Linked DNA regions of Homo sapiens. The protein of the gene in region 4 interacts with the protein of the main gene of each other region in a biochemical or structural test. Each region holds a gene or a part of one and is shown on either strand. Other genes may lie near its edges. The genes, in order: SYNJ2BP, FSTL1, MSTN and ACVR2B.

The links.
Region 1: the proteins of ACVR2B (region 4) and SYNJ2BP form a complex in vitro, tested with the Homo sapiens proteins (one study listed by BioGRID).
Region 2: the proteins of ACVR2B (region 4) and FSTL1 interact in a biophysical measurement, tested with the Homo sapiens proteins (one study listed by IntAct).
Region 3: the proteins of ACVR2B (region 4) and MSTN interact in a biophysical measurement, tested with the Homo sapiens proteins (one study listed by IntAct).

The regions. Positions count from the first base shown.
Region 1 is NC_000014.9:70,414,091-70,422,041, reverse strand, and holds the start of SYNJ2BP (synaptojanin-2-binding protein), read left to right. Parts: upstream 1-4,951; 5' UTR 4,952-5,078; coding exon 5,079-5,142; intron 5,143-7,951. Other genes in the region: SYNJ2BP-COX16 protein, read left to right, coding at 5,079-5,142. UniProt on the Homo sapiens protein: Regulates endocytosis of activin type 2 receptor kinases through the Ral/RALBP1-dependent pathway and may be involved in suppression of activin-induced signal transduction.
Region 2 is NC_000003.12:120,447,990-120,455,628, reverse strand, and holds the start of FSTL1 (follistatin-related protein 1 precursor), read left to right. Parts: upstream 1-4,636; 5' UTR 4,637-4,732; intron 4,733-4,882; coding exon 4,883-4,945; intron 4,946-4,974; exon of another isoform or gene 4,975-7,639.
Region 3 is NC_000002.12:190,059,713-190,067,337, reverse strand, and holds the start of MSTN (growth/differentiation factor 8 preproprotein), read left to right. Parts: upstream 1-4,608; 5' UTR 4,609-4,741; coding exon 4,742-5,114; intron 5,115-6,902; coding exon 6,903-7,276; intron 7,277-7,625. UniProt on the Homo sapiens protein: Acts specifically as a negative regulator of skeletal muscle growth.
Region 4 is NC_000003.12:38,456,875-38,463,895, forward strand, and holds part of ACVR2B (activin receptor type-2B precursor), read left to right. Parts: intron 1-2,556; exon of another isoform or gene 2,557-2,700; coding exon of another isoform or gene 2,701-2,815; intron 2,816-7,021. UniProt on the Homo sapiens protein: Transmembrane serine/threonine kinase activin type-2 receptor forming an activin receptor complex with activin type-1 serine/threonine kinase receptors (ACVR1, ACVR1B or ACVR1c).

The DNA.
Region 1 (7,951 bases), on a different chromosome or scaffold from region 4:
GGTTTGTAATAAGCTGGTAGTATCAGAGATGGTCAGATAGACTGTATTTCATACATAGCAACAGCTATACTTTTGATGGGTTGAATGTAGAATGCAAGGGAAAGAATGGAATCAAAAGCTGTTCTTAAGATATTCATATGAACTGAGTAAACTGAGTTACTCAAGGAAGGGGAACAGCTAAGAGAGGTATCAGTTTAGGGGTATAAGGGTTAGAAATTCTCATTTTATCATAATTTAAGATGCCTGCTAGGCATCTAAATTTTGAGATGTTAGGTAGGCAACTGGGTTACACAAGACTGAAGCTCAGTGAAGAGACATGACAGCTGGCATATTAATGGCATTAGAGCCAGGGGTCTGAATTAGACTTCTTATAAAGATAGCATATATATACAGAAGAATAAAGAGTACCAATCAAAAAGGACAATAGAAGATAAAATAATTGTAAATGCCTTGTGGCTATCTGCTGTCATCAATAGCTGGGGTCAGCAGTGCAACTTGCAGCAAGAACTTGAAAATTAAAGCAATAATACTGCTATCAGGTCTAAACTTTAAAATCAACAAGTAATGGGCCAGAGCAGAGATATGCAATGCCAAAGGCTGTGACTTCACTGTAATCTGTGTTATGGGCTGTGTTGTATGCCTGCAAAATTCATCTGCTGAAGTACCTCAGAATGTAACCATATTTGGAGAAAAGGTCTTTAAAGAGGTAAGTAAGTTAAAATGTGGTCATTACGGTGGGCCCTAATCTAATATGAACGATGTCCTTATAAGAAGAGGAAATTTGGAAACAGACATGTGTGCACACAGAGGAAAGACCATGTGAAGACAGAGGTAGAAGATATGGCCATCTGCAAGCCAAGGAAAGAAGCCTCTGAGGAAACCAACTCTACCTGCACCCTGATCTTGGACTTCCAGACTCCACAGCTGTGAAAAAATACATTTTCATTGTTCAAATTACACAATCTGTAGTATTAGTTACAGTAACATTAACAAACTAATATCGTCTGATTAAATGTAATAATAATACAACAAAGAAAAAAGTGTGTCAATCACAAAAGAGTTTTGTCACCTAAGGAAGCATAGAAAAAATAAAATATGCAGGAATTTGAAACTAAATAGGTAAGGGCAAAAAGTTGGAACAAATGCTATGTCAAAGGAGAGGTGGATAAGTCCCAAATACAAACATATTCATGAGTTGGTCATCAAAGAGGCTGATAGAATAAAATACTGAAGTAGGAGGGGACTGAAGCAGACAAGAGAGATTAAAAAGACAAAGTGAATATATGACAGGAAATGTGCAAAAATAGAGCAAGGTGTGATTAAGGTGAGGCAAGGTTTCCACTAATTTTGTAAATGGTAGATTGAAGTTTCCACTACATTCTACATTTTTTACATAACTCAAGGTCATAAGCAGAAAGGTTAGTTCAGACAGAAAGTGTCACTTCTTGTGTCAGAGACTGCCAGTGGCCTCCCAATATCCATTCTCCCACTTTCAGTTAATAATAATAACCTTGATTTTTATGGTTGGCACATTTCTATCCCTGAGATTACAAGAAGTCTATGACATTTCCAGGAGGTCTTCTTTGCCCTTCCTTCATTACCTTCCTGGAATGTAGATATGATGGTTGAAGTTCCAAAATCCATCTTAAGCATCTTGGACCACGAAGTAAAGTCTACACTCCAGGGGTGAGCCACTGCACCCGGCCTGATTCCATAATTTTTCTCAATTGTTTCCTCTGAGTAGGATCTCATTTTCTCTGTCATTTGCTTTCCTACATATTAAAGCTCCCTCATTTTTTTTTTTAATTTATTTACTTTTATTATTTTTTAGTAGAGATGGGGTCTTGCTCTGTTACCCAGGCTAGAGTGCAGTGCTTCAATCACACCTCACTGCAGCCTCAAACCCCTGAGCTCTAATGATCCTCCCGCCTCAGCCTCTAGAGTAACTGGGACTACAGGCATATCACCACGCCCAGCTAGCTTCCTTGTTCTTCCATTGTTACTGGAAAGGGGTCCTGATCCAGACCCCAACAGAGGGTTCTTCAACCTTGTGCAAGAAAGAATTTGGGGCAAGTCCATAGAGTAAAGTGAAAGCAAGTTTATGAAGAAAGTAAAGGAATAAAGAATGGCTGCTCCATAGGCAGAGCAGCCCCGAGGGCTGCTGGTTGGCTATTTTTATGGTTTTTTCTTGATTATATGCTAAACAAGGGGTGGATTATTCATGAGTTTTAGGGGAAATTGGTGGGCTATTCCTGGAACTGAGGGTTCCTTCCCTTTTCAGACCATATAGGGTAACTTCCTGATGTTGCCATGGCATTTGTAAACTGTCATGGCGCTGGCAGGAGTGTCTTTTAGCATGCTAATGCATTATAATTAGCATATCATGAGCAGTGAGGATGACCAGAGGTCACTTTAATCACCACGTTGATTTTAGTGGGTTTTGGCTGGCTTTTTTACCACATTCTTTTATCAGCAAGGTCTTTGTGACCTGTACCTTGTGCTGACCTATCTCATCCTGTGACTTAGAATGCCTAACTTCCTGGGGATGCAGCCCAGTAGGTCTCAGCCTTATTTTACCCAGCCCCTATTCAAGATGGAGTCGCTCCAGTTCAAAAGCCTCTGACACCATTATTCCTATACTTCTATTAGGGAATAAAGGCAATTTACATATCCCATCTCTCACTCTACTTATTACCAGCATTTCCTCAACTTGTTTAGGATACTTTTTTCTTTCACTGCCCTATGTATTTCTTTTGAAGCTGTGTGTTCAGATGAAAAGGACAATTTTCCCAGGTACTGAGAGGTGATTCCCCCACCACCGTCCCCACAGTGGTCTAAAAGAAACCTTGTGTTTTTTTCCTTACAAATCTCCTCATTGATGATTTCTTGATTTTCCCCCCATTTCTATTTGATCTTTTCTCTCTTGACATTCCAATGTCATTTATTTTATTTTATCTATTTATTTTTTGAGATGGAGTCTTGCTCCGTCACCCAGCGTAGAGTGCAGTGGCACGATCTCCACTCACTGCAACCTCCGCCTCCTGGGTTCAAGTGATTCTCCTGCCTCAGCCTCCCATGTAGCTGGGACTACAGGCCTGCGCCACCACGCCCAGCTAATTTTTTTGTATTTTTAGTAGAGATGGGGTTTCACCATGTTGGCCAGGCTGCTCTGGAACTCCTGACCTCAAGTGATCTGCCCACCTTGGCCTCCCAAAGTGCTGGGATTACAGGTGTGAGCCACCCCGCCCAGCCCCCAATGTCATTTATTTATATTACACATTTTTTTAATTTATCATTCTCTGCCTTTTATAATGATCATTTTATTCACTCATCCAACCAACATATGAAGAGCTACTATCAATCCCATTTTAAGATGGGGAAACAGAGTTCAGAGATGTTGGATTCCTTGCTCAAAGACAGACAAGTTTAAGGGAATGGAATGGAAACTTGAGCCCAAGTTGTAAGTCATAATCTGTGTTATTTCCACTATCCCATCTTTTTTTTTTGAGACAAAGTTTCGCTCTTGTTGCCCAGGCTGGAGTGCAATGGTGCAATCTCGGCTCACTGCAACCTCCGCCTCCCGGGTTCAAGCGATTCTTCTGCCTCAGCCCCCCGAGTAGCTGGGATTATAGGTACCTGCAACCACACCGAGCTAATTTTTTGTATATTTAGTGGAGACAGGGTTTCACCATGTTGACCAGGCTGGTCTTGAACTTCTGACCTCAGGTGATCCACCCGCCTCGGCCTCCCAAAGTGCTGGGATTACAGGCGTGAGCCACTGTGCTCAGCCTCCACTATTCCATCTTAACTTCTCTCAGAGTGAGCAAATAAGAGGTCTTCCTGCCGAATCTGCCCCTATCTCCTTCTGTTTGGTAAACATAGTAGCTGCTGCTTTGGTTTTTTACTCTAAATTTAAATGTCTTTACATTGGCCTTGCACTTTCTAGTCCTCTAAGATCCCCACCAATCCCTGTGGTCTAACTCCAGGTTGCTTCACAAGGTTGTCACCTTCCTGGCTCTTTAGGCTTTTGTGTTTTTGACCCCTGAAGTTTCATTCAAGTTCAGTTTGGAATGTCTCATTCCAAAAGTCAGGAAGACTGGCCTAAAGTTATACCTAAGCCATGCGTTAACCTTATTGTAAGAGTTAAAACATTAAAAAGATTGAATTTTCCCAGTTGCCAAAAGAATGAGACATTCCCCCACCCCCCTTTCTTAAAACATTTTCTTGAGCAAATTGTAATTATAATCCGTGTGTAGTGTGTGTGTGTGTGTGTATCTTTTTAAAAGCTAAATAAGCCTCTTGTCAGATAAAACCCAGGAATTGTTTTCGTCAGGTCCCGGGAGCCAACTCCTTGAAATTTAAGTATCAAGGTAGACAGTGCCCCTATGTTCCAGGCTCGCGGGAGTTACCCGAAGCGCCTTGCTCCAAGCCGTAAGTACCTGTTTGTCACAGAGATAACGTTTTATTTTTCCTTTGGATAAAGGCAATTAACCAACACAGGCGGCCACTCCAACGGTGAACTACCAAAAATTGAATACCAAACCATGTTAACTCGTCTTACATGAGAAGATGCGTGTGCTTTGGCTACATAAAATGTGAGATTTTTGTCTCTCTTTGCAATCTCATTAGTGGATTGCCTGTAACACCCATTCCGGTCTGGTTCGATGCTTACAGAATAATACACCTTTTTTTTCTTTTCTACATTTGTGGAGATTTTCTAGGATGGCAGGAGATTTTTTTAAAATTTTTTTTCTCGACAATATCAATTTATTTAGGTCCCTTACTTTTACTAGCCACCCCCTTCCCACTTGCTTCCAATGGCAAATTAGAATGGTAACTTGCCCCTTGCTCACCTCATGCTTGGCTTTGGGAACCGGTGAGAAACTGCAATCCATTGGCGGTAGGAACCACGATTCCCAGCATTCCCAGTGCTCCGAGTCCTTCGGGCTTCCTTTTCCGGGTCTCGAGGCTGCTGAAACCGAAACCGCTGTGCTGTGGGCGCAGCGCCGAGATTGATTCACCTTCACCTGTGCTGCACTCCAGCTGACCCAAGTAGGAAGCCAGACGAGCTGTAAAACATGAACGGAAGAGTGGATTATTTGGTCACTGAGGAAGAGATCAATCTTACCAGAGGGCCCTCAGGTATGTGCGGAAAGGGTCATATCTGACAGTAGGGGATTAGAGGGTGTAATTGCAGACACCTCTGCTGCTGAGCCGGATTCACCTGGCCTCGGGGCGGGCAGGCCACAACCTAGAGGTTTCGTGCAACGCTTCGGGGTGCTTAGAGAAAATATATTGAAATCCATCATTAGCCAGATACGGGTCTGAGGAATCCACCTCAAAATCCAGTTGGATGAACACAAATATATATAGTCAAGAAGGGGTTCTTTGTGCAAATCGTGCTAGAAAAGCCTTTTTAAAAGCCTGCTTTTTTAGCCTGCTTATCGTGGATACCACATCCTTCTTTCCGTTGCCTGTTCTATCCCTCCCCCTATGAGGGACCGTTTAGTAAAATGGGAGCATAAACGGTGTGGACTCTGAATGCATAGCCGTTTTCCTGCAGCTAGGATCCCTCCCTCGCTCCTTTGATTTCTGGGAACTTCATTTACAATGTCAACTAGAATGTTAAAGCAGGAAGAGCCCTTAGAAATCTTTTATTACACAGGTTCCCAAACTTGGTTCCGCCACAAAATTACCCAGGGCTTTAAAAAAAAAAAAAAAAAAGAAAATAAAAAGTTAAATCTTATCTCCCATCTGCAGGGATTTGGATTTAATACAGATTTATTTTATTTATTTATTTATTTTTTATGAACACCTCATGTGATTTTGAGCAGCCAAACTGCTATCCTCTTCCCCCACTGTGGCTCTTCATTAAACCGGGCTCTTGACATTACTACATTCTGCCTGCTTTCGACTTTGTTTACTTTCCTTTACAACTATTTAGTTGATCAATTAAGAGCTCTTTAGCTTTGGAATTACAGTATCTGGGTCTAAATCTTGTATCTAACCTCTTACTGATTCTTGATACTTATTGGCTAACTTAACTGATGTAAGCCTTAGTTTATCATCTCTAAAATGGGGATGGTTATAAATATACTTCATAGTGTTGTGAGAATGAAATGAGTTAATCCATGTAAAATGTTTACAACATTGCTTGACCTATGGTAAACAGTATGTGTTTCCTACTATTGTTACTGTTAATGGATAAATAGCTAAACTGACACAGTAAATCCTACTAATACTGTATTCCAAGAGTCTCTAATAAATCATCAAGTACTCTGAGCTCCATCTCTGAAATGTTCCTGAAATTCTTTCACTCCTGTTTCCCTTGCCACTACCTAGGACAGTCCATCACCTTTTCTCATCTGCAGTTCTGCAGTAGCTTAATCATGGATAGATTATTCTTTATAAAATATAACTTTCAGAATTATCCATACTTTGTGTCTTCTTTTCTTTTCTTTCTTTCTTTTTCTTTTCTTTTTTTTTTTTTTGAGACAGGGTCTCACTCTGTTGCCCAGGCTAGAGTGCAGTGGCACGATCTCAGCCCACTGCAGCCTCTCCCTCTTAGGCTCAAGCAATCCTCCCACCTCAGCCTCCTGAGTAACCGATACCATGGGTGTGCACTGCCACGCCCGGCTAATTTTTTTGTATTTTTGGTAGAGACGATGTTTCACTACGTTGCCCAGGCTGGTCTCATTTAAACTCCTGAGTTTAAATGATCCACCCACCTCTGCCTCCCAAAGTGCTGGGATTACGGGTGTGAGCCACTGTGCCCTGCCTTCCTTTCTATTATTAAAAATTGGAAGTTGGTTTTACTTATCGGAATATAACTCATCACTAATACCATTATTAATATTTTTTTTTTTTTAGAGACGAGGTCTCACTTTGTTGCCCAGGCTGGTCTTGAACTCCTGAACTCAGGCAGTCCTCCTGCCTTGGCCTTCCAAAGTGCTGGGATTACAGTCATGAGCCATCATGCCTGGCCTATCACTAATCTTAATGGATTAGTGTCATGCTCCATATGTGCGCCTAAACTTTTGTCAAAGGCTCATTTGGTATGCCCAAGTTTCTTGGATTCATTTTTTTGCTATTTTATATAAATGTATCCTTCACTCACTGTTAATATTTATTGACTTTTGAGGCTAACATAGAAAGTTACTTTTCAATCAAAATCTGTTTTTTTGTACTTTTCATCCATTGATAACTTGTTCTCTTAGGACCAATTAAAACAATGCTAGTTCCTTTTCTGATTGCTGTGCAAGTATTTATTTAAAGGCTCTAGTTGTTCTGCTCCTGTTTTGCCTCTTTCTTCTTTATCCTAAATATCTTCGGTTATTTTACTACCTCTTGAGATGTTTGAGATTTGATTCTTGCCTTTTGCTTAAGAATTTAATGTACTTTGACATAGTCCTTTTGCTCTGGCATCCAAAGTATTTTCAGATCTCCTGTCTAAAGCAGAGCAGGACCCTGATATTATCTCTTGTTCTAAAGATGAAATCTTTTTAAAATTCAGTATAATATCACTTCATCTTTTTTGGCATTTGTAGTCATAAATTTCCTAGTGTTAGTATTTTCCCAAAACATTGGCATTCGGACAAGCTTCAAGGACTAATTAAAGGGAATAATTATATCTAGCTAATATATTTCACCCAAAAATGGTTTGATTTCTGTATCACATATTTATTACAAATGAATGTATTTATTCACTCAGTGGCTTCCTAAATTTTCATAAGCATTTCCATGTATTAATTATATAAGTCAGTGAACTTACTGGGAGAGTAAAGCCTCAAGTTTAGGAATGAACTTGGGTGAAAACAGTCATTTGAAATTTGGTTGGTTCAGTTAACAAAGAAAGGTTTCAAGTTCATGTTAATCACTTACCAGAACTGGTTTCCTAGTATGTGATACTCTTCTTCTCAGGGTCTAATTCAGCTTTTCTTCATGGTATCAT
Region 2 (7,639 bases), about 82 Mb from region 4:
GAAGGTGGGTATTGTTACCTGAAGCATGGCGAAAGCAAGCTGGATGCGAAAGGAATCAATGTGTACTGAATATCGTGACATTAAGACACTCTACAGATCTGGATGGAAGATGTGTACCATTGGCTCACCCACCAAATTACTCATTTTCCAGTCCTATAAACCATTCATGCGAAGGTTTTTTTGTTGAAATTTGGCTCATAAATTCCCATCTGCTCTGGAAATCAAAATTAATTGAAAGGTTTTTTGTTTGTTTGGCTGGTTGGTTAGTTTTTGTTTGTTTGTCTGTTTTGAGGCAGGGTCTCTCTCTGTCACGGAGGTTGGAGTAAAGTGGTGCAATCATGGGTCACTGCAGCCTCCACCTCCCAGGATCAAGTGATCTTCCCACCTTGGCCCCCTACTCCCCCCGTAACTGGGAATACAGGGGTATGCCACAACACCCAGCTGATTTTTATATTTTTTATAGAGACGGGGTTTTGCCACATTTGCCCAGGCTAGTCTCGAACCCCTGGGCTCAAGTGATCATCCCACCTCAGCCTCCAAAAGTGCTGGGATTACAGGTGTGAGCCACCATGCTGGTCCCAAGTTATTATATTTTTATATTTTCAACAAATGAGTAAATAAGCCACTGGAATTCTGTCTGAAGATTTTTAAACAGGTTAGAAAATTTTGTGTAAGTTTTTAAAATGTGCATACACGAGAGTTTTTATGGTGCCACACTTTTATTGTTTTGGATAACAAAATAGCCTAATGATAAGACATTTCCAAATATCTCATTTCAAAATATTTTCTCCACTGCATAGTTTATTTTTGTCTTTTGCTTTATTTATTGTAGAGTTAACCATACGCCACAGCACAGTTTTATCATCAGTACCTGTAAGAGCTCTCTAGTGAATTATTTCCGTAGTAATACATCTTATTTATATGCTTACTGTGTACCAGACACTATTCTAAGTACTTTACATATTGATACATTTAATCTACACAATAGCTCTATGAAATCAGTACAATTATCACGATTTTACAGATGAGGCAACTGAGATGCAAGGGGTTAAGTAACTTGCCCAAGGTTACATAATAAGTAGTAAAGCTAAGATTTACTACCAAGGCAATTTTGTACCAAGGCAGTCTGTCTCATAAACCCATGCTTTTAATTGCTACAGTACACCACAAAGATTGCACTAGTCACATGCTAACACTGATATTGTCCAACTGTCTGATTTTTGCCACTGTGATGAGTGTAAAGTGACATTTATAATTTACTGTATAACTTTGGACAAACTACTTAAACTCTGTGTGTGTTTCTTCATCTGTATATTGGAGATAATAAAATAATACTGATTTCAAATGGTTGTTGTGCAATTTAAATAATAGTAGTGATGTTGAGTATCTTTTCTATATTTATTGTCCATTTGGGGTTCCCCTTTTGGGAATTGCCTATTCATACCTATTGCCCTTTTTTATTGGGTTTTCTTTTTCTGATTGATTTGCAGGGTGTGTGTATGTGTGTGTGTTATGAGTTACATGTCAGTTTTAGACATTTATATCTCCTTCTATCATTTTGTCTATGGTGCCCTCAGTTGAACAGGAATCTTTCATTTCATTTTGATATACTCAAATCCATTAATTGTGTTCCAAATGTAGAGAGGATAAAGATATGAAAAACATTGTTTTTGCTCTAAGCAACTTAAAACTAGCTGGAGAATCAAGAATAACTATGAGAACAAGTGTTAAACATTGTATAGCAGTCTGCAATATAATGCCCCAAGTTGTAAGGCTGTGTAGCCAACAGTATAAACTTGGGAAAGTATCTAAATCTTCCTGAGCTTCAGTTTTATTTGGAAAACGGAAGCAATAAAAAAGACCTTTCCATTTACTGTATTTTTTAAATTTTTATTTTTTATTGTTATTATTTTTTTGAGATGGAGTCTCTCTCTATTGCCCAGGCAGGAGTGCAGTGGCACAATCTCGGCTCACTGCAACTTCTGCCTCCCGGGTTCAAGCAATTCTGGTGCCTCAGCCTCCCAAGTAGCTGGCACCACAGGTGCCCACCACCATACCCATCTAATTTTTGTATTTTTAGTGGAGACGGGGTTTAATCATGTTGGCTAAGCTGGTCTCGAACTCCCGGCCTCAAGTGATCCGCCTGCCTTGGCCTCCCAAAGTGCTGGGATTACAAGGCATGGGCCACCGTGCCCAGCCTCCTTTCTATCTATTGTGAAAATTAAATAAAATAAGAGATGTTGAATGGCTTTCATAGTACCTGGTGTATAGTACCAACTACAATTTAGATGCAAAGCCGATCATGAAATAATAATGGCTATCACATACAGAGGTCTACTACCTGCCAGGCACTTTTTATATGCATCTGCTTAAATTTCACAACTCCCTGCAAGGCATTATCACTGCCATTTGTCAGAGGCAGAAACCTAGGTTCAGAGGGCTTATTATTTGATGCAAGTCAGGCCATGCAGCTAGTAAATGGCAGTGATAGGATGGAAAGCCAGATTGGTTTGACCTCAAACCTCCTGTGCCTTCTACCATGCCAAGCTGTTGTCAGAAAAGATATGAAGGAAGCAAACTTGACGTGGTTCCTGAAAACAAAACAAACAAACAAACCCAAGCATTTTAGTAGATAAGAGGAAGGGAGGAAAGATGATACCAGATTCTGAGAGGGTGCAGTGGATCTGCAAGGGATGCAATGTATTGTGCGTTATTCGAGGGCAGAACTTTATCCACAATAGTTCCCTTCAATCCTTGCACAGTGACCAAGACAGAGTATCTGGTGCGGAACATCTATTCCCTAATCTTATTACCATAACAAGGGAGCAGGAGTAAGTTGTCTGACTGGAGAGTTTGAAAGAACTGGGGATGTGTCACTCTACCCCCTCAAGTTTGGGGAGCAGGCATGTCCCAGGAGGCACATATTTTCTGCTTTTCCATGCAGTTTAGTTTTTACACAGGCAGGTTTTCCAGCTCTGCTTGTGACTGAGTGGACATGTTCAATTCTGGGCCCGCTGTCCCTGCAGATCTAAAGCCATGGCTGCCATTCCAGCCTTTAGCAGAGACAAAGCTGACATTTTGCTCTCCATAAGTCTGACTCCTGTTGCTATCTCAGTGGATTCTGAACTTACATGGGGACCATGGGTATTATCTTGAAGCCCCCTAAAGCCACAACAGTGGGCACTCAACAAACCTTGGCAGCAGAGTGAGTATGACAAGTTCAGAGGACAACGAGGAGATGGGCCTGCTTTGAGCGGAGGAAGTATGCTGATGTAGTTGAAGAGAAGTTAGATGGACAGGGTGGGCCCAGTAATGCAGGGCTTATAAGAAAGGCAGAGTTTGGATTTGATGTGGGTAGAAGAACGCTGAAGTTTCTGAGTAGAGGAAGAACATGAACACGAGGAAGACAATGTTTAAAATAAGGGAAAGAATATGACAATGGATTGCAGTGGAGACTACAGGGGAGAGCCTGGAGTCAGAGGACAACGAAAGGAGGTTTCCAGAATTTCTGAGTGAGGGAGGATGAAGGTCTGGCCTAGGAAAGTGGACATGTGAACGGAGGCGAGGGGATGCATATGAGATCTCAGCGGCTAAACTGCCAGGCTATGGGTACAAGCCGGCTCTGAGAAAAGGAGATAGGTTTGAAGGCAACCACCCTGAAAGAGGTAGATAAGCAGGCCCTGAAGCTGGGGGAAGTGAGGCTTAGTCTTGGGCATGTGAAATCTGAGTTGCTAAGTGGATCTGCTCTCCTTACTAGTTATGGCAGGAAAGGCGCCTTAATTAGGAGCATTTTAGGGAGTTAACCCTGTCAAAGAGGTAGCACACTTTCGAAGGCCAAGGGCTGGGAAGAAGGTGGTGAAGATGGCAATCCTGAACACAGAGGCTACTTGGGATGACAGGGATGGGAGGAGGGACACAGGTGATGAGTGAGTGGGCGGAAGAGAGGAGGGGGACACCGCTCCCCGGCCCGAGGGAAGGAGGGGATGAGGCTGCCGGCAAACGCTGGACTCAGGATCTTCCCAGCAGAGCAGGGCGGCCGCCACCTCACCCGGGACAATGCACTGTAGAACCCACAGCAGCCTTCCCCACGCCGGCCGGTCTTCCCGGCCCTGCGCCCACTTCCCGGTGCCCCGCTGCCCTGCTGCCGTGACCCCGGGATGCGGGGTCTCCTCTGCCTCCCTGGGCCTCCCCCTTCAGCCATGGGGGGCGGCTCCGCTTCCTAGGCCGCGGGACGTCTTTTCCTCCAGGTTCCAGTCCCGGACCTTCCCGGGCCCCCCACGGCACCGCCCACCTGGCCACCGCCGCAGCCCGCCCGGGCCGCCGCCAGCCAGCAGCCCCTCCCGGGGTGGGGTTTCCCTTCCCCCTACCCCTTTGTGGCAGGGACCCACGGGACACCCCCTCTGCCTCCGCTCCACGTCCAGGGGGCCGAAGGGGCGCCGGACGAGGGACCGTGCGGAGAGAGGGGTTCGGCGGCGCCAGGACTCCCGCGGGCTCCCCGGAGCAGGGGTCGGAAGGAGGGGGAGCGGGAGCCGCGGGGGCCGCTGCAGCAGAAGGGGGAGGAGAATGGGGAGGAGCTGGGGGGGCAGGCAGGCGGGGAAGGAGAGGTCTTAAGGGGCGGCGAGGGGAGGTCGCATTTCCTCCGAGGCTGGCGATCGGCGGAGCTCCCACCTCCGCTTACAGCTCGCTGCCGCCGTCCTGCCCCGCGCCCCCAGGAGACCTGGACCAGACCACGGTGAGCGCAGGGCGCACGGCGCGGAGGCCGGACTCTTCGGGCGGCCGGGGGTGCTTGGGCGGCCGGAGCGAGCCTGCGGGACCCGAGCAAGTTTCCCAGGTCAGCGCGGGGCCCGGCGCCTTCAGACTCGCTCTCTTCTCTCTTCCGCAGATGTGGAAACGCTGGCTCGCGCTCGCGCTCGCGCTGGTGGCGGTCGCCTGGGTCCGCGCCGAGGTAGGCGAGGGGCCGAGGAGTCCGAACTCGGTCCCCGGGGCCTCTTGGGTCTGCGCGCTGGGCGGGTGGGCGCGCGTCCTGGGGATGCTCTCCCGGGGTGGCGCTGGGAGTTTCGGTCCTTGGGGTGTGCTGGGGTGGAGCTGGGGCAGTAATGCTGCTTACGAAACTTAAATCTTTAAAGCAGGAAAAGTAGTTCGGGCCGTAAGCGGGAGCCCCGCCGCGGCTAACATGGAGGGAGAGCGGGGAGGAGGAGAGGGGACGGGCTGGGCCGACGGGGACGAGGCGGCGACTGGAGCAGCAGCGAGTTCAAAAAGGCGCCTCAGTTCCGTCCTTCACTTCAGAGGAGACTGAGAGTAGTTGGGGACTTTTCCCTCCCAAGTCTGTCTCCTGGGGGCGGGGGCAGAGGAATCGGGATTCTTCTTTTGGGGCAAAATTAATTTTCCTTTCTCTCTTTTAAAGTGAGATCATGATTCTCTGAAATGTATTTTCTTCTTTGTGAAGTGTCCTCGGGTTTTGTGTTATCATCTGGGCAATGTAACGGCCTTTTCCCAAGTGTTCCCTGTAACGTTGCGCAAGTGTAAGAGAAGATCCATTGCTCTGCTCTTTGGGGGCTCGAGTTTCCAGTTAAAGCATTTCAGCGCTTGTTTTTTTGTACCAATTTTTTCAACTCTAACGACCTTCCTGAGACACTACAAACAAACCAACAAACTCTTTGCTCAGAAGCCGCTCCATTAACTCAAAGGTTTATGGACAGAAAATAAACAATTCTAAATTCCCCGGGCTCCAGTCTCCAGGAAAGTGAGGTCAGAAACTAAACATTTGATAATTATGGCAGGAAATATGGAAGGAATTAAAAAGCATGAGGGAGAAGAAATGGAATGCACATTACAAAAGAAATAGCTCCCTGGTGGGTGGTTTATGCTCCCTGTTTGAATTTTTTCCTTCATATTACAGTTTAACCACACCCTTAGCATCGCAGCTTGACTCTGCCCAAAAAAGTCATAAATGCATACAAGGTCTTCACAATTTTTAAAAAATACGCATTGTACTGAATTCTCATTTAATTCACTACTACGTTGTTGATTGAGGTGGAAACTCAATCAACTGTTTTTACTGCCAATGAAATAAAAGTAGCTAATATTTATTAAATATCTGCTATGTTGTAATAAAATTCCATTTTAATGACAGATAAATTGAGTCAGCGAAGGTTACCCAATGCTCTCAGCTATTAAATGCTAAGGGTGGGATTTGAACCCAAACAGTCTGGCTCCGGACCCAAGGCTCTTGACCATTAACCCACACCACTTCCAAGCACAATGGTTTAACATTTACCAAGTACATTTTTGTTTACCACACACTGGGCTGTGTACGTTACCTGCAGTTACTTCTTTTAAAGCTCCCAAACCCTGTAATGTAGGTTTTATTATCCCGATTTTACAGAGGAAGAAACAGGTTTAAGGAGATTAGGTAACTTGCCCAGGGTCATACAACTAGTTAGCTCTGAAGCAGGATCTGAACCTACCTCTCTTACCTTTGGAGCCCATCTTGAACTCCAGGTCTGCTTCTTATCCATCTGGTTTTCCAGGGTTTGCATTTGAGAGCGTATCCCCCTTCACTGGCTGATGTAGCCCTGGTTAAGAAACATTTCTCCATCCCCTGCTGTGGCCCTCAAAAGGCAGTTGCAGACCAGTGATGGATGAGGTGAATCCCTGGTTGGTTTTCCAGCAGGCTCAAGAATTGCCAGCCAGTGTGTGAAATCACTCAGTGAACTGGAATGCAAATATGAGGTGTGAGGAGGCTGTTGGTTGACTTACCAGGCTGTGTGGCCCAAGGTCTGGAATCTATTCTAGGCGGCCTGCAAGACACACACCCCTCCCAACCCCCTTCCACACAGGGAAAACTTATCCCTGGTAGGAAGTTCCCCCAGCAGCAATTTCCTGCTGGAGGTAGAAGAGCATCCAGTGCTCTCACATAATTCCCAGGCAAACTACAGGGAAGAAGGCAAAATAGAGAAGTACTGAGATGTGAAAACAGAGTGCGTTGGGGGAGAAAAGAGGCTGTGAACTCACAGTGTATGGAAATGGTTACAATGAAAAGAGTGAGGGGTAGGTATGAGCTAGGTTACATTTCATGGCTCCAGGTTATTAAGGATTATTATCTTTTAATTATTCCAACCTCCTGGTGCCTGGCCAAGTAAGATTTGGCAAGTTTTTAATCCATTTAATAATAATATACCTTTAACAATTGATGAAGAGGTACATTAACCCTCTCCCTATGGGAATTGTAATTTGGATTTTTTAAAAGCCTTTTATCTTGTAGTTAATGGTGCTTGCTGTTTAAATTTCTTCCTTGTTAACTCTAAGGACAGTCTGCAAAAATGGTCACATCATGATATTTACAGTCCTTAGTGACAATCTATTTTAGTAAACTTCAAATCGCTAAAATTGTACAAATATTGTTGAACTTTTTAGAAATGAAATTTAGAAAATAAATTGAGGCTTCTTGGTGCTTTCTGCTTTTCTGCGACCATAAATATTTAATTCAGCATATTTTTAAACAATTTAATCACTTTACAAATCATGTTGATATTTGAAGAAGCCAGAGCCTCTGTAGTAAACCAGAATCAGAGGTGCTCTCCACTTGGGAAAAGGTGATTGTCATCAGTATTAATGCCAGTCTATGTCAATCCCATTT
Region 3 (7,625 bases), on a different chromosome or scaffold from region 4:
GGGTGCTTCCCAAGTCTCTTCCAGAGAGTCTATGAAATAAAAACTGTTTTCATAATAATACTAAGATGTTTTTTGCCTTTCTCACACTCATTCTTTCTTATGTGTACAATAGTTTTCCAGAGGCCCCATAATGTATGAAGACATCATGACTCTGTCAGCAAATAAAATGCATGCTTGAATATGCCTGCACATGACAATTTGTTTTAATATATATGTGTTAAATATTAATGATATAACTGACACAAAAAAAGATTTGGGGGATTCTAAATAGTTTTTGAGAGTATAAACAAATCCTGAGACCCAAAATTTTGAGAATCACTGCTTTAGGGGATAAACCTCAATGGAAAGGGCACACCTAATCAAATTTATTCATATTTCATATGAAGAAACTAGTCCATAGGTTTCCTGAAGACAGTGATTGTGTCTGTCTGGCTCGCTGTTTTATCCTCAGAATCTAGCATAGTGCCAGGTACAAAATAGGCATTCAAATATTTCATAAACTAATACATGAATTCACACATACATACATTTATAAATGAAGGGTTTGCTAACTGACTTATTCAAGGTTACATAAAACATCAACAGTAAAGCCAGAACTATATTTTGGGTCTCCTGCCTTCTATTCCCATATTCATGCTACCTAGCTTAAGAATATTTTTTGTTTTTGTTAATTTTTGTCTTCTAACTATCAAAAGCATGGGTAATCAGTTATCATCAATGTGGGATGATTATCTTCTCATGATGTTAAGTGAGTTGAGTACTATGCAGATTTTTTCTGGCTCTAAGAATAATCAGCATAAAGTAATACCAAACAGCTGTAAACACAAGTTAATGACAAGAGGTATCAGATAAAACTTTCTGAGTTTTTGCCCAAAACTGTTGAATTTTTCATGATTCATTCTTGTGCTAATTCCTAATCTCATCGTCCTCCTTTTCTTGGCCATGATCATTAAACTTCCGGCAAGTCTTTACATTAGTACACTCAGTAGATCTCACACTGGAAAAATAAAACCGTAATTTTTTTTTGGAAAATATTGTTTATACCCTCAACATTGTTTTGAGACAACCAGTGAGTATTTGTAACAGAGATGAGAGAGTTTCGCTTGCCACCTTACTGACGGTTACAGAAAATGTGAGGCCCACAACAGTCTACCTAGTACAAAGACGAACCATACCAGTCTTGTGAGATACTGCCTTAACTACCTAAATTCTGACTCCTGTGAGAAGCTGCTTTTAGAGATGGCTAACTTAAGACAAAACCAACAAGCTGATAGACGCAGCTCTCCCAGTTAACTAGGAGGAATTCTTCTCTACCCACTCACCCTAATGATGCAGTACTGTCCTGTCTCCTTGGTGATAAGAACTGCCAGAACTGGGTCTCCAGCAGTCAGACTACATTGAAGTTTCCTATAGCTGGTGAGCCCTTCTATTCTGGGGCCTCAGGAAGGTTGCAATCACTGCCACTGGAGAAGGAATAAAACTTACTTAAATTTCTTCAGTTCTTCTTCACCCATTCAATACTGTTCTCTAGAGAAGTTGATTAGATATAGTCAATTCTCCCTATTCATAGTAGTTATGTTCTATAAAGTCATTGCCAACACTGAGTTAGCAAATATTGAACTATTGTTCCCAGGGGAAAAACAGGGTTAGTTGAGCCTCTGGTCATAACATTTACATCACCCAATCAATATATAACCTTGTTTTATGTATGTTTTTGTTTACAAATACATTATTTAATATATATTGTTCATTCATTAACACTGAACTCACAGCCAGCAGCACTATAACTCAGGCCTGAATGATGCTTATCTAGCACATGCATTTTTTCATGAGAACTTTTTTCCCTTAGGCATATCACAGCCTTTTAAAATTGTGGTAAATATACACAACATTTAGCATCTTAACCATTTTTAGGTGTACAGTTCGGTGGCATTAAGCACATTCACACTGTTGTGTAACCATCACCACCATTCATCTTCAGAAATTTTTCATCTTCCCAGACTGAAACTCTGTATCTATCACACAGTAACTACCCCTCAGTGCCTCACCCAGTCCCTGGCAACCACCATGCTACTTTCCATTGCAGCTTTCCTGTGATTAGGAACATAGGAACACCACGCAGCACGTCAGCACTATGCTTGGGGGCCATTTTTAAAAAGCAAAATCAATAAGAGGAGCAATAAAAAAAGAAGCACAAAATATGTGAAAACATGGCACTAAATAGACGGGAAAAAGGGAATTTGTTTATAGTATGAGAGCTGAAACAAAAAGGCGGAACCCTGCCTTGTTTGACCTCATCTGGGAACCTGTGCGTCAGATAGGACTCAAATTTTTTGCCGCTCTGTGAATGCCAGCGAATGACTGAAAAATGCTAGGAATATTGAGTTTCATAGATAAATTTTAGCAAGTAGGCAAATTTGTGAATACAGAAATCATGAATAATAAGAATTGTCTGTTAGCGGAAATGACAACCTTTGTTCACTTTTTTCCAGGTGATAAGAATAAAGAGCTGGAACATGTCTTGTAACCTGGCTGCCTTAGAAAATTTTACTTGCCTCACAGGCCTAGAAAGTAGGCTTTGTGACTGATAATTGGCAGCTATGACCTGAAGCAGTTCTAGTTCATGTGGAGCATAATTTTAAGCATAATCTCAAACCCTTCTGCATAAAACAAAGAGCAAGCACTCAAATGCCAGTTATCAATTACTTACTATATGACAGGTGCCATATTCAGCAATTTACATGCATTATTAAATTATATCCCCCCAAAACCCTATGAGGAAGCTAAAGTTTAGGGAAGTTAAGTATCTCATCCATTATCACATAGTTAGAAGTGGCAAAGTTGAGATTTGAACTCAGGTCTATCTGACTCCAGAGCCTGAGTTCTCAATTCAACTGCTATACAATTCTAAGCATATTAAAAAAAAAGTTTGACTTACTTGGAACTGTATAGATGCATGTGTTACAATGATCATAACATTTGAAAGATTTACACATTGAAAAATGAATTTACCAAACAAATAAAACCTTAGAAGCCAGATCTAATATTGTCCCATAACAAAGAGTATCTGAAATCCTCAGGGCATCTGGTTTGTGTCTGGTTTTCCTTAATCTTTAATGATGAGCAAATCCAATGCATTATGTAAGGCCATTTTTTTCTCAAGAGATGTAGATACCTCTTAAGAATTTGATGAAAATGCATTAACTTTTCAGGCTACTGAGTTGCATTTTAGTGCACCGAGGCAGTAAATTAGTGTACAGTGTGCAAAAATGGTAGTGACTTTAAAAATAAATATTTGATATGAGCCACTGTATTCTCTTGGAAAAAAAAAGTAATGGACTAAATCTCTTAGGAATCCTTAGCTTCCCAAAAAGGAGTAGGAAAAAGAAATCTCCTTTGGCCTAGAAATATCTTCTGTTTCTTGCTGGCTATGTTTGCTTAGCTCTTTAATAGTTCATTTGACTAGATCTTGTGGCTCCCAAAGCTAAGGTTGAACGTTTGATCCCTACAGAGGCCACTTAAATTTAGAGAACAAAAAGCTCTATTCTCTGCTCCCAGACTTTACCCCAAATCCCTGCCAGGTGTCTGCCCTCTGGTCAAAATGAGAAATTGGCAAAGGGGTGCAAACATATCGCAGTATTGGGAAACAACAAAAGGTCACCCCTTTATCATGATGCTCTTTCTCTTTTATGTGCTCATAATATTCTGATATAATTTATAGAGAATAGATACTGCACTTTTTACTCTCTGGATATTTACTGCTGGAAATCTGAGGCAAACTGTAATAATCTCTGCCATGCCAGTTATAAAATTCATTATCTTAGTCTATGTTCAGAGATTTTTCTACTAGCTGGCATTACCCTCTTGGTAATAAACAATGAAAAACACATCTTCTGAGTTATGTTAATCTGCATCTTTAGAATAGGAAATAATAGCACTCAGTCAAAAGTTCAGTATAATTTTCATATTAATAAAAGACATGAAACTATGTAAAAATAATTCCATGCACAATATGTTATAATAACAATGACTTCCAATATTTACTAAGAATTTAGTCAGAAAACAAGTTTCTCAAATTATAGATGAAAATTCTCAACTAGTATCATAATCTTAACTTTTAATTCAGGTCTTCCTAATTTTTATTTTCCTAATTACTTGGCACTAAAAATAATTTAATACAACAAATAAAAATATTTTCTACTTCAAATACTTGCCTAAACAATATAAAATCATTTTAGTTTTTGAGGAAGTAATATTTCATATTTTAAATATGTAGTATAAATTAAAATTGACTTATTTAAATTACAATAAGAGTTGTGTGAGGATTAGTAAGATTTAAGTACAGTTTATATTATTGCCAACATAGACTTTTGTTTTTCAAATGTCACAAATATCTTTTATTATTTGTAGATTTATTTCTTTTATGAAGTAGTCAAATGAATCAGCTCACCCTTGACTGTAACAAAATACTGCTTGGTGACTTGGGACAGACAGGGTTTTAACCTCTGACAGCGAGATTCATTGTGGAGCAAGAGCCAATCATAGATCCTGACGACACTTGTCTCATCTAAGTTGGAATATAAAAAGCCACTTGGAATACAGTATAAAAGATTCACTGGTGTGGCAAGTTGTCTCTCAGACTGTACATGCATTAAAATTTTGCTTGGCATTACTCAAAAGCAAAAGAAAAGTAAAAGGAAGAAACAAGAACAAGAAAAAAGATTATATTGATTTTAAAATCATGCAAAAACTGCAACTCTGTGTTTATATTTACCTGTTTATGCTGATTGTTGCTGGTCCAGTGGATCTAAATGAGAACAGTGAGCAAAAAGAAAATGTGGAAAAAGAGGGGCTGTGTAATGCATGTACTTGGAGACAAAACACTAAATCTTCAAGAATAGAAGCCATTAAGATACAAATCCTCAGTAAACTTCGTCTGGAAACAGCTCCTAACATCAGCAAAGATGTTATAAGACAACTTTTACCCAAAGCTCCTCCACTCCGGGAACTGATTGATCAGTATGATGTCCAGAGGGATGACAGCAGCGATGGCTCTTTGGAAGATGACGATTATCACGCTACAACGGAAACAATCATTACCATGCCTACAGAGTGTAAGTAGTCCTATTAGTGTATATCAACAGTTCTGCTGACTGTTGTTCTAGTGTTTATGAGAAACAGATCTATTTTCAGGCTCTTTTAAACAAGCTGTTGGCCTGTATGTAAGTAGAAAGGAAAAGAGTTTCTCTTTTTCAAGATTGCATGAGAATATATTAATGAGACAAAAATCTGCTGCATTATTTGTTTTCTTATAGAGACAAAAAACTAAAAAATAAAGTACTTGCATAGCATTAATTTAATAAGGCAAATATAGATAGCATGCTTATGCTTTCACAATAATACCACCAAGGCAAGGACTGGGAGATACTACAAGCAGTGTTTAAAACTTACATTAGATTTTAGAATTGTATTTAGTTGTGTAAAATAAGTTTTTTTCACTAATAACAGAAAAAAAAAAAGAAACTTGCTGGATGTTTAAGCTTACTTGAGCACTGCTGAAAACCTCAAGTGATTTCTGTTATTTGAAACTCTCTCAGTAATTTTTTTGTTCTTCACAGTTAAAAATTTAATTTTGAGAGCTATTACACTGAAGAATATGCAAAAATTAAATATCTTAATGTGTTAGTAAGAACAATAATGAAGTAAACATAGCATAATAATCATCATGAACTAAATATTAGAAAATGCCTAAGAAATAAACATTTTAATTGGGTAGGTTATGGCTCACAAAGTCCTCCTTGTACCTTGACCATAGTACTATTATTGAGAGTACCCAGTTTGTGTACTTCCAAGCAGGCACAGTGCTTAATAACCTTCTAAAATATTTTATTCTTCCTGAGAGGGAGGGCTTTTACCTGTAGTATCTACACTGCTTCTGACAGATAACATATTTCATACAATTCCTTTTGCAGTCAGCTCAAAAGAATACTTTCTCCAGGAAAGAGAAACAGGCACCTTGACAGAGAAGGCATGGCAAGAAAAATTTTGTGTTACCTGTTATCTTGCTTTAATACAATGCTTTATATACTTTAAACAAGACTCCAAACAGTTTTAAAATATTATTTCCCTTATTAAGTAATCAGGTTACAATGCAGCAAAGAATTTCCATTTAAGACTCTGCTATCAAATAGGTCTGGAGCAGATTTACCTTTTATAGACAATTTTGGAAAACCAAAATAAAAGAAATTGTTAGTGCTTGTGCTTACATGACAGCCTGGCCCTAAAGACAATACTTTCGAACTTTTCAGATAGCCTGAATATAACATCAAAATTTTTGTGTTAATTATCTGCTTAGTTTTGCTCCTTTAAAAGGTTATTCCAAAGCCAAAATGTAACAGATGTACTGTGTTTTCTACTAATTCCTGAGGCTCAGTAAGTTGCTCAGTGTGTCTTGTCCCCAGGTAATTCAGGCCTGGGGGAAGGGTTCCTTCTTCCAGACTGATTGGTACAGCTGCTCAGTAAGTGTAACTACTCAGATTCCCAAAGAATTCTAAGTGGTTGTTCCTCCACAGTGTCTCTTGTTCTCTCTAATCATCATCATTTTAAAATTTCATTCAGCGTTCATTACTTCATAGAACCTTCCTTTGTCCATAGTTCTCTGGAAGGGGAATAGATTCCTGATGAACAGCTGAAAATACATACGTCTGAAAAATTCTGAAAAGCTAGGGTAATTATTTTCTTTGACATTTTTTTGAGTTATAAAGTTCCACACGGTATTTCATTTTAAAAGACTGCATAGGCATACATTATCTTAATTTAAAAAAATGCTCAACTATTAATATGGAGGGGTTTTGTTAATGGGAAATAATTTCAGCAACTTTTCTTTTCTTATTCATTTATAGCTGATTTTCTAATGCAAGTGGATGGAAAACCCAAATGTTGCTTCTTTAAATTTAGCTCTAAAATACAATACAATAAAGTAGTAAAGGCCCAACTATGGATATATTTGAGACCCGTCGAGACTCCTACAACAGTGTTTGTGCAAATCCTGAGACTCATCAAACCTATGAAAGACGGTACAAGGTATACTGGAATCCGATCTCTGAAACTTGACATGAACCCAGGCACTGGTATTTGGCAGAGCATTGATGTGAAGACAGTGTTGCAAAATTGGCTCAAACAACCTGAATCCAACTTAGGCATTGAAATAAAAGCTTTAGATGAGAATGGTCATGATCTTGCTGTAACCTTCCCAGGACCAGGAGAAGATGGGCTGGTAAGTGATAACTGAAAATAACATTATAATAACCTTATGTTTTTATTCATAATATGAACAAACAATAGTGGAAAATAGCTACAAATTCCCTAAGCTCATAAGCTAGACAAAGGTATCTTACCCCAACGGTAGCCCTGTACCCAATAAAAGTAGGTGTCCAATTTCATATCCTATGAAACACTCCCTTGATACTCTTACTTTGCATCAAGATTTTAGAAAACAATTATACCATACTTCTTAACTTCTTAAGAAGTCCTTTTGAATTGGGAATGAAATATAAAGTGCTTTTCATTAATATGATACATGACTGTATGTATTAAAATATTAACTCTATATAGTGGATTTTACC
Region 4 (7,021 bases):
GGACACATTCTTTCCATGAGATGGAATGAACTTCAATAGTATATTTTACTGGCCTGGCACAGTGGCTCATGCCAGTAATCCCAGCACTTTGGGAGGCTGAGGTGGGAGGATCACGAGGTCAAGAGATCGAGACCATCCTGGCCAACGTGGTGAAATGCGTCTCTACTAAAAATACAAAAATTAGCTGGGTGTGGTGGCACACGCCTGTAGTCCCAGCTGCGCCAGAGGCTGAGGCAGGGGAATGGCATGAACCCGGGAGGTAGAGGTTGCAGTGAGCCGAGATCATGTCACTGCACTGCAGCCTGGTGACAGAGTGAGGCTCCGTCTCAAAAAAAAAGTATATTTCACTGAATTTGATATATACAAAGTAATTTCAGCCTGAGATCAGTATTAAAACGAGACATTTTGCATTCCATTTTTGTACTGTCATCAAAATCCAGTGTGTGCCTTACAGAACATCCTCAACTCTAACTTTCCACATTTCCAGTGCTCTGCAGAACATTTGGTTAGTGGCTACCATATTAGACAATGGAATCTCAGAAGGGAAGGTAGAATTTATGGTGTAATAAATGTCACATGGTGCTTGTCACAAGATCAGTCAGTGGTTAGTTGGTTCTTTAATAATTCTTCAAGTCTTTTGTGGTCTGTGCTTGGCCGAGTGTCCTTGGGAAACAAGCCATTTGGCTCTTGCATTTCAGTGGACATCCTGGACACTCAATGCTGTATCCTACAAGAACTCCTGACACCTGTCTCTGTACTCTGTACTTGGGGTTCAGATCAAAGGGCTTATGGGGGTGGGGTAAACAGTATTCTAAGTGAAGTGACCAGAGCTCTTGGAGAGGGACCTGCCTCCTGTCTATCCCATCAGGAAGTGCAGGCCCTGATTACTCTGATAGGCTGACCCAAAGAAGTTTCTTGGCCACTTCCTTGGGGGAGGGCGGAGGGAGTGAGCTCATGAAGTGAAGTGACTTTCATCCCTCAGGCCTAGTGTAGCGGTAGCTGCCAAGGACATGGGCTACAGAGCCATGGGCCGTGGGTGCCCCTCCCAGAGAAGAGTGTTTTCTGCTACCTGTCCTTGTATCTGCTGGGCACTCGAGGCTCTGCCCTGTCTGGGTGGGCTGCCTTTTGGGAGGAATGGGTATCCTCCCTAGCTCTTAGGGGCCCTTTCAAGGCAGATGATGTGAGAAACCTGCCCATCTTTCCAGGCCCTATAGCTGGGTAAAAACATAAGATCTAAACCCTATGGCCTCCCATCACTTGGGTGGGCCTCTACTGTGTACTACTCTGTGGGTCTTTCTGGGCATCAAGAATCTCCAGAAGCACCTGGACCTCTGCTGGCACTTCACCTAAGGAACTCCTGTTATAAGGAGCCAATGAAGAGCCCACATTCTATACAGTGGTCCTCCATGTCATAGACCCCTCTGAGAATCTGATGAAAGCTGTGGACCCTTCCTCCAGGAAAATGTAAATCGGTATATGTGTGCATGTGTGTGTACATTGTATGCACCCACTCTGTTTTGTACAGATACTGGGAACCTACTGCCCCCTGATTAGACTCCTTGAAGTCCTGGCTGCCCTGCACATATCCACTGTAGTAGTCTTAAGGGGCAGCTTGTTCTGCGGGGGAGGGGTGCTTTTTCCACCTTGGTACCTCACTTACTTTGCCTTTTGTGATCCTGCCGGATGTTCAGATTCTAGCCCTGGTCTCTCTTTCCAGAAAGCTGTCCTCTTGAGTGCCAGCCTATGCATTCAGCCCCTCTGCTTGGGAGCTCAGGGTAGTGCAAATGAGAACCAAGGAGTATCGGTTCAGGAGTTTAGATCCACTCACGGATACTGACCTGTCACCATGGATTGGGATCTGGAGGGTTGAGGACTGGGTCTGGATAATATTTTTGCTAGTGACTGTAGATAGACTCTAGATAGTCCTGAGGCAGGGTCCTGGTTGCATGGGCCTCACTGTAGAACAGGGTTTCTCAACCTTGACACTATTACATTTTGGGCCTGATGATACTCTGTTGTGTATGGGTAGTGGTGGGTTGAGCTGTTCTGTGCATTGTAGGATATTTAGCAGTATCCCCGCCTCTACCCACAAATTCCAGTAGATCCTCTTTAATCATGTCAACCAAAAATGTTTCCAGATCTTGCTAAATGTCCCTGGCAGAGGTGAGAGCAAAATCATCTCAGATTGGGAACCACTGATCTAGAATGTTCTCACGCTTTCAAAGAGGTCTACAGTTGTAAGAAGTAGGGGTAACGGCTTTTGAGTGCATATCCATCCCCCCACTCTGGATGCAGGGTTGGAGGTGAGGTTCTCCTCAAAGCCTAGGAGATTCCTGCTTAGTGAAATCTGCTCAGCACGTGAGAGTTTGGTTCAAAATTAGTGGTTCTGGTGTACAGCTTACCACCGAGGAGAATCCTGGCGTCCTTGAGTTTTCCCAGAAGTGGTTCAGGTTTCAGGGAGGCGGAGGCTGTGGGTGGCTGGGCAGCCTGCCTGCCCGCACCCGCCCACTCGCCTCTGACCGTTGCCTTAAGGCTGGCACTCAGCCTCTTCCTCCCGTACACGCAGAAATGCCAGGAAGTGCCTGTTGCTGGGGACTCTCTGCCTGCCCAGCAGCCCCTCTCTGCTCACCTGGGGGCCTCAGGAGCTAAGGCTAGCCCTGTCTGCCAAGCGGAGCACTGGGGTTGTAGCAGGCCGTGGGCATGCCCCTTCCCCTGAGTGGACCTGCCATGTGGCGCTCCGGGGAGCCGCAGAGGCTGTGGGCCTGGAGCCCCCAGGCCGGGGACACCAGGGCAGGTGGGCAGCCTCTCCCCAAAGGTATGGGTGCAAGTCTCTCCCTCAGGGTGTGGTGGCCAGATGGGAATCTGAGGGCAGGGCCAGGCTTCCTGCTGTGGACCTGGGGAGGTGTGGGCAGCGCTGCCTTAGACAGGCAGCCGACACTGGAGGCCCTGGTGGAGCGGTTGGTATCTGTGGAGGCTTGTCTATTGGGCTTGGCAGGCTGGCAGCCCCCTGTGGCTGCCCCCATGTTTATTTTCTACTCCTCCCCTGGCCTGCTTCAAGCTTGGCTAGGGAACGCTTCTGTGGGACTCTGTCTGTCTCATCTTGAACTCAGTGAGACACAGTTTGCTGCACTGGGAAGTGATTACAAACTGGACTCTTAGGGTGGAGGAAGCATTTTTCAAAGACCCAGTTTCCAAGTGCTCCACATCACTGGTATGTGAAGTGCTTGCTGAGGTTCAGACTTCCTAGTTCCATCTGTTTTTGGGGTCTTTACAAAGGGGACTTTATTTCCTTCTCAGAATTCTTTCTCTTCCTTCCCTCCGGTTCTATCACTAATTCTGTGTTCCAAAACAGACACCCACCCCCTTGTTCTGGGCTTTCTTTTTTGGTCTCTCATTCTCTACCAGACTTACGGGTCCATCCCAGCCCTAGAGGTGCCTATTCCTTGTGGTCCTGGGGGTACTGCTACTGAATGCCCAGGTTTTCTGGTGGTGGAAATGCTGCTGCCTTCTTCTGACTCTATTACATTGCTCAGTGATGTCTCTGACTAAGGCAGTGGTAGGTACTGGAAATCAATGGATAAAGCAGGCTGGGATTGTTCAAGGGTCAGCCATGTCTCTTCCCGGCCCAGGACCAATAATGGCTTCCCGCCTTCGGACAGCCCCATGCTTTCCCCTGGTTATTCTAGGCTTGCTGTACACATGCATGTGCCTTTTTCAGATTCTTTCTGGGACTGGCAGCTCCAACTGGGTGTTTTCATTCATGGACGCATGACCTCTGGAAGCGGGTGTGGAAAGGAAGCCTGTCCCACTGGGCAAATGTGAGGCCCTCTTCCCAGGGGAATGTTGTCTGGATGGGTCTGACCTGCTGGACAATGGGCCTTCTCCCTGGCCAGTTTCTGGGCTGGAGCTGAGGTGTTTTGTGAGGCGAGCTCATGCTCTTTGCATGTGTTCCTCTGCCGACTATTTCAGTTCCACTCTGACAACCAAGGAGGCTAAAATTAGTTCTGGAGAAGGAAAAGGAAGGCTGGTTGGAAACCCAAGCCCTTGGCTGGAGAATGGAGGAGGCTGCTTCCCAGGTTTGTGCCTGAGCATTTCGGAGGATGGGATGAGACCAGCTGTTATCCGTCCATCTGAGGAGAAGGAGGGGTCCCTGTGGCCTCCCAGACTTGAACCAATTAAAACAGGAGACTAACTTGGAAGCTGACTCTCTCGAGTGTTGATGCCAGGATATTTTTTCCTTCTGGCTTGTGCAGTGGCGCACAGTGTTTTCAGGTATGAGGACAATGCCTTTTAATGAATGTCCAGTGCCATTGACAACCCTCCTCCCCCTCCCCTCCAACTGGATTATGTGTCCGTTGATTTAGAAAGCATGCATGAGTTTTCCCAGCCTGGGCTGGCAACCATGGTTTAAGAACTCTTATTTTATGCACTTTTTGGGAATTTCCTTCTCACTGAGGTTTGATATTGGGTTAGAGGGGAGTCCTGTGGCCCAGGGCTCACACAAGAGGTCCCGCTTCTCTGTGTAGTGAGGGCATAGTGAATCAAGGCTCATCTGCTCTGGGCCTTAGAAACCAGAGGAGCAGAAGGGTTAGAGAGATGAATTCTGGTTTCTTTTCCCACCTGGCTGGCTCCTTCTGTGAACCTTCTGGCTGAGGGTGAGACCTACAGGGCTGTGTGGGAGTAGAAGGAGGGCCAGGGCAATGTAGTCCTATCTCCCCTGCCCTGAAACCTCGCATCCAAACCTCCCATCACTGAGAGGTTAGCCACCCTGGGGTATAGTTGGGGGAGTAGAAGTCACTTCCCCCATAACTAATTTTCCCATTTAAAAAAAATTTATTACTTTTTAAACAAGTAATATACCTACATTATATTGCAGAAATTTAGATGTTACAGATAATACTAGGGTCTCCTTTTATCACTTCTGTTCCCCATCCGAGGCCCCCTCCAAAGGTAATCCTTTTAAGATTGAGATGTATTCTTCCAGACATTTTTACTTGTGCATCTATAGAAATACTTATAGAAATAGAGAGGCTTTTGGCCGGGCGTGGTGGCTCATGCCTGTAATCCCAGCACTTTGGGAGGCCAAGGTGGGCGGATCACCTGAGGTCAGGAGTTCAAGACCAGCCTGACCAACATGGAGAAACCCCGTCTCTACTAAAAATACAAAAAATTAGCCCGGCGTGGTGGTGGGTCCCTGTAGTCCCAGCTACTCAAGAGGCTGAGGCAGGAGAATGGCGTGAACCCGGGAGGCGGAGCTTGCAGTGAGCCAAGATAGCACCACTGCACTCCAGCCTGGGCAACAGAGCGAGACTCCATCTCAAAATAAATAAATAAATAAACAAACAAATAAATAAATAAATAAATAGGCTTTTTTCCACCTAAAATGGTATTCAAGCATTTAATTGAAGTATAAAACATATACAGAAGAATGTACAAGTAATTACCATAAGTAACAGCTAAGAAGCATTTTCACAAATTGAATACACTGGTTTAGTCAGCATCCAAGTCAAGAATCAGAAATTTTCCAGCCCCCCATCCCCAGCAAGCCCTGTTTTGTTCCATTTCAGTCTCTGCCCACACCCACTAAGGTTAACTACTATTCTAACTTCTAACAGCATAAAATAGTTTCATCTGTTTCTGTGCTTCATATGAATAGAACCTTACAGAATAAACTGCTTTGTGTCCATCTTTTCCTCACCATGTTTGTGACTTTAAGCTATGTTGGATGTCATGGCTTTTTAAACTCGGAGATTTGCTTTGGCAAACTTTCTGATACATATGGATCTACTTTGATCTTTTTAATAACTACGTAATATTCTAAAGTTTAAATATAGACTACATTTTACCTAGTTTCTTACTGATGGACTTTGTGATTGTATAGAATGTATGCAGACTGTTTCTCAAGAGTAGATGAGAAAATAACATCTGGATCATAAGCACGTATGTTATTGGTTTTAATAGATACTGAAAAATGGTTATACCATTTTATTTATTTATTTTTTGAGGCTACCCAAGTGATGGCAGTGAGGGTAGAAGCTGGGTGATATGGCAGTTGGCTCTCTGCGGTAATCTGTGAACATCCTTCCTACCTCCACACCCCAACCCCTGCTGAAATGCTAGGTTACAGAGTTTAGAAATAGCCTGGTTTCATGAAGGGTGCGCGGACATGGGAAGGGCTCACTTCCACTGGCTTAATGTATGAGGAGACCTGGAGATAACCTCTCGTGCCTGTGTCTCCTACCTTGTGCCTGAGTCTCCTGGGTACTGTGCTGATGAGGGAGGTAGCACTGGACTAGCCAGGATGTGCTGGTCTGGGTTTGGGATGGAAGTGCATATGTATGTTCACTTACCAGGCTCTATGCTGCGTGCAGACTCTGAAGAGACTAAGGCACTTGTTGAAGGTCGCTGAAGAGCTCTGGGTAACAGCACTACTGGCAAGCCCACTGCATTTGACAAAATCTGAGTGTGACAAATTCTGATTTCATATGTCGTGATAATGACGTTGGGGGTATTGGAGAAACCTGTAGAAAAACTATTTTAGAGTCTGGTGAGAAGCTTTTCATGACAGAAGGAGCTCTGGTGAGTTTCTGTTCCTGGCTGAGTGTATGCCTTGTTCCCTGTATAAGTCTCTGCCACAGTTGGCAGAAGACTTAGGGAAGATAGTTTGGGATGACTTGTTCACCAAAGCTGTTGCTTCCCAGTCTTGTTCTTCAGCTTGCTGCCTACTCTTTACTGTTATGTTGGGATTCTTTATGTAAGTCCACTTGTCAGGCCCTGCTAATGGATTTAGATGACACTCAAGTTTGTGGAACTGTTTCTAGTACAAATGATACTCCAATCAGCTTTCCCACATTATACATATGATGTGCGCTGTTTGTGTCTTAGTCTGCTCAGGTTGCCATAATGGAATACCATAGATTGGGTGGCTTAAACAACTGAAATTTCTTTTCTTACAATTCTGGGGACTGGAAGTTAAAGATGAAGGTGCTGTCAGGATTCGTTTCCAGTGATTCTTCTCTCT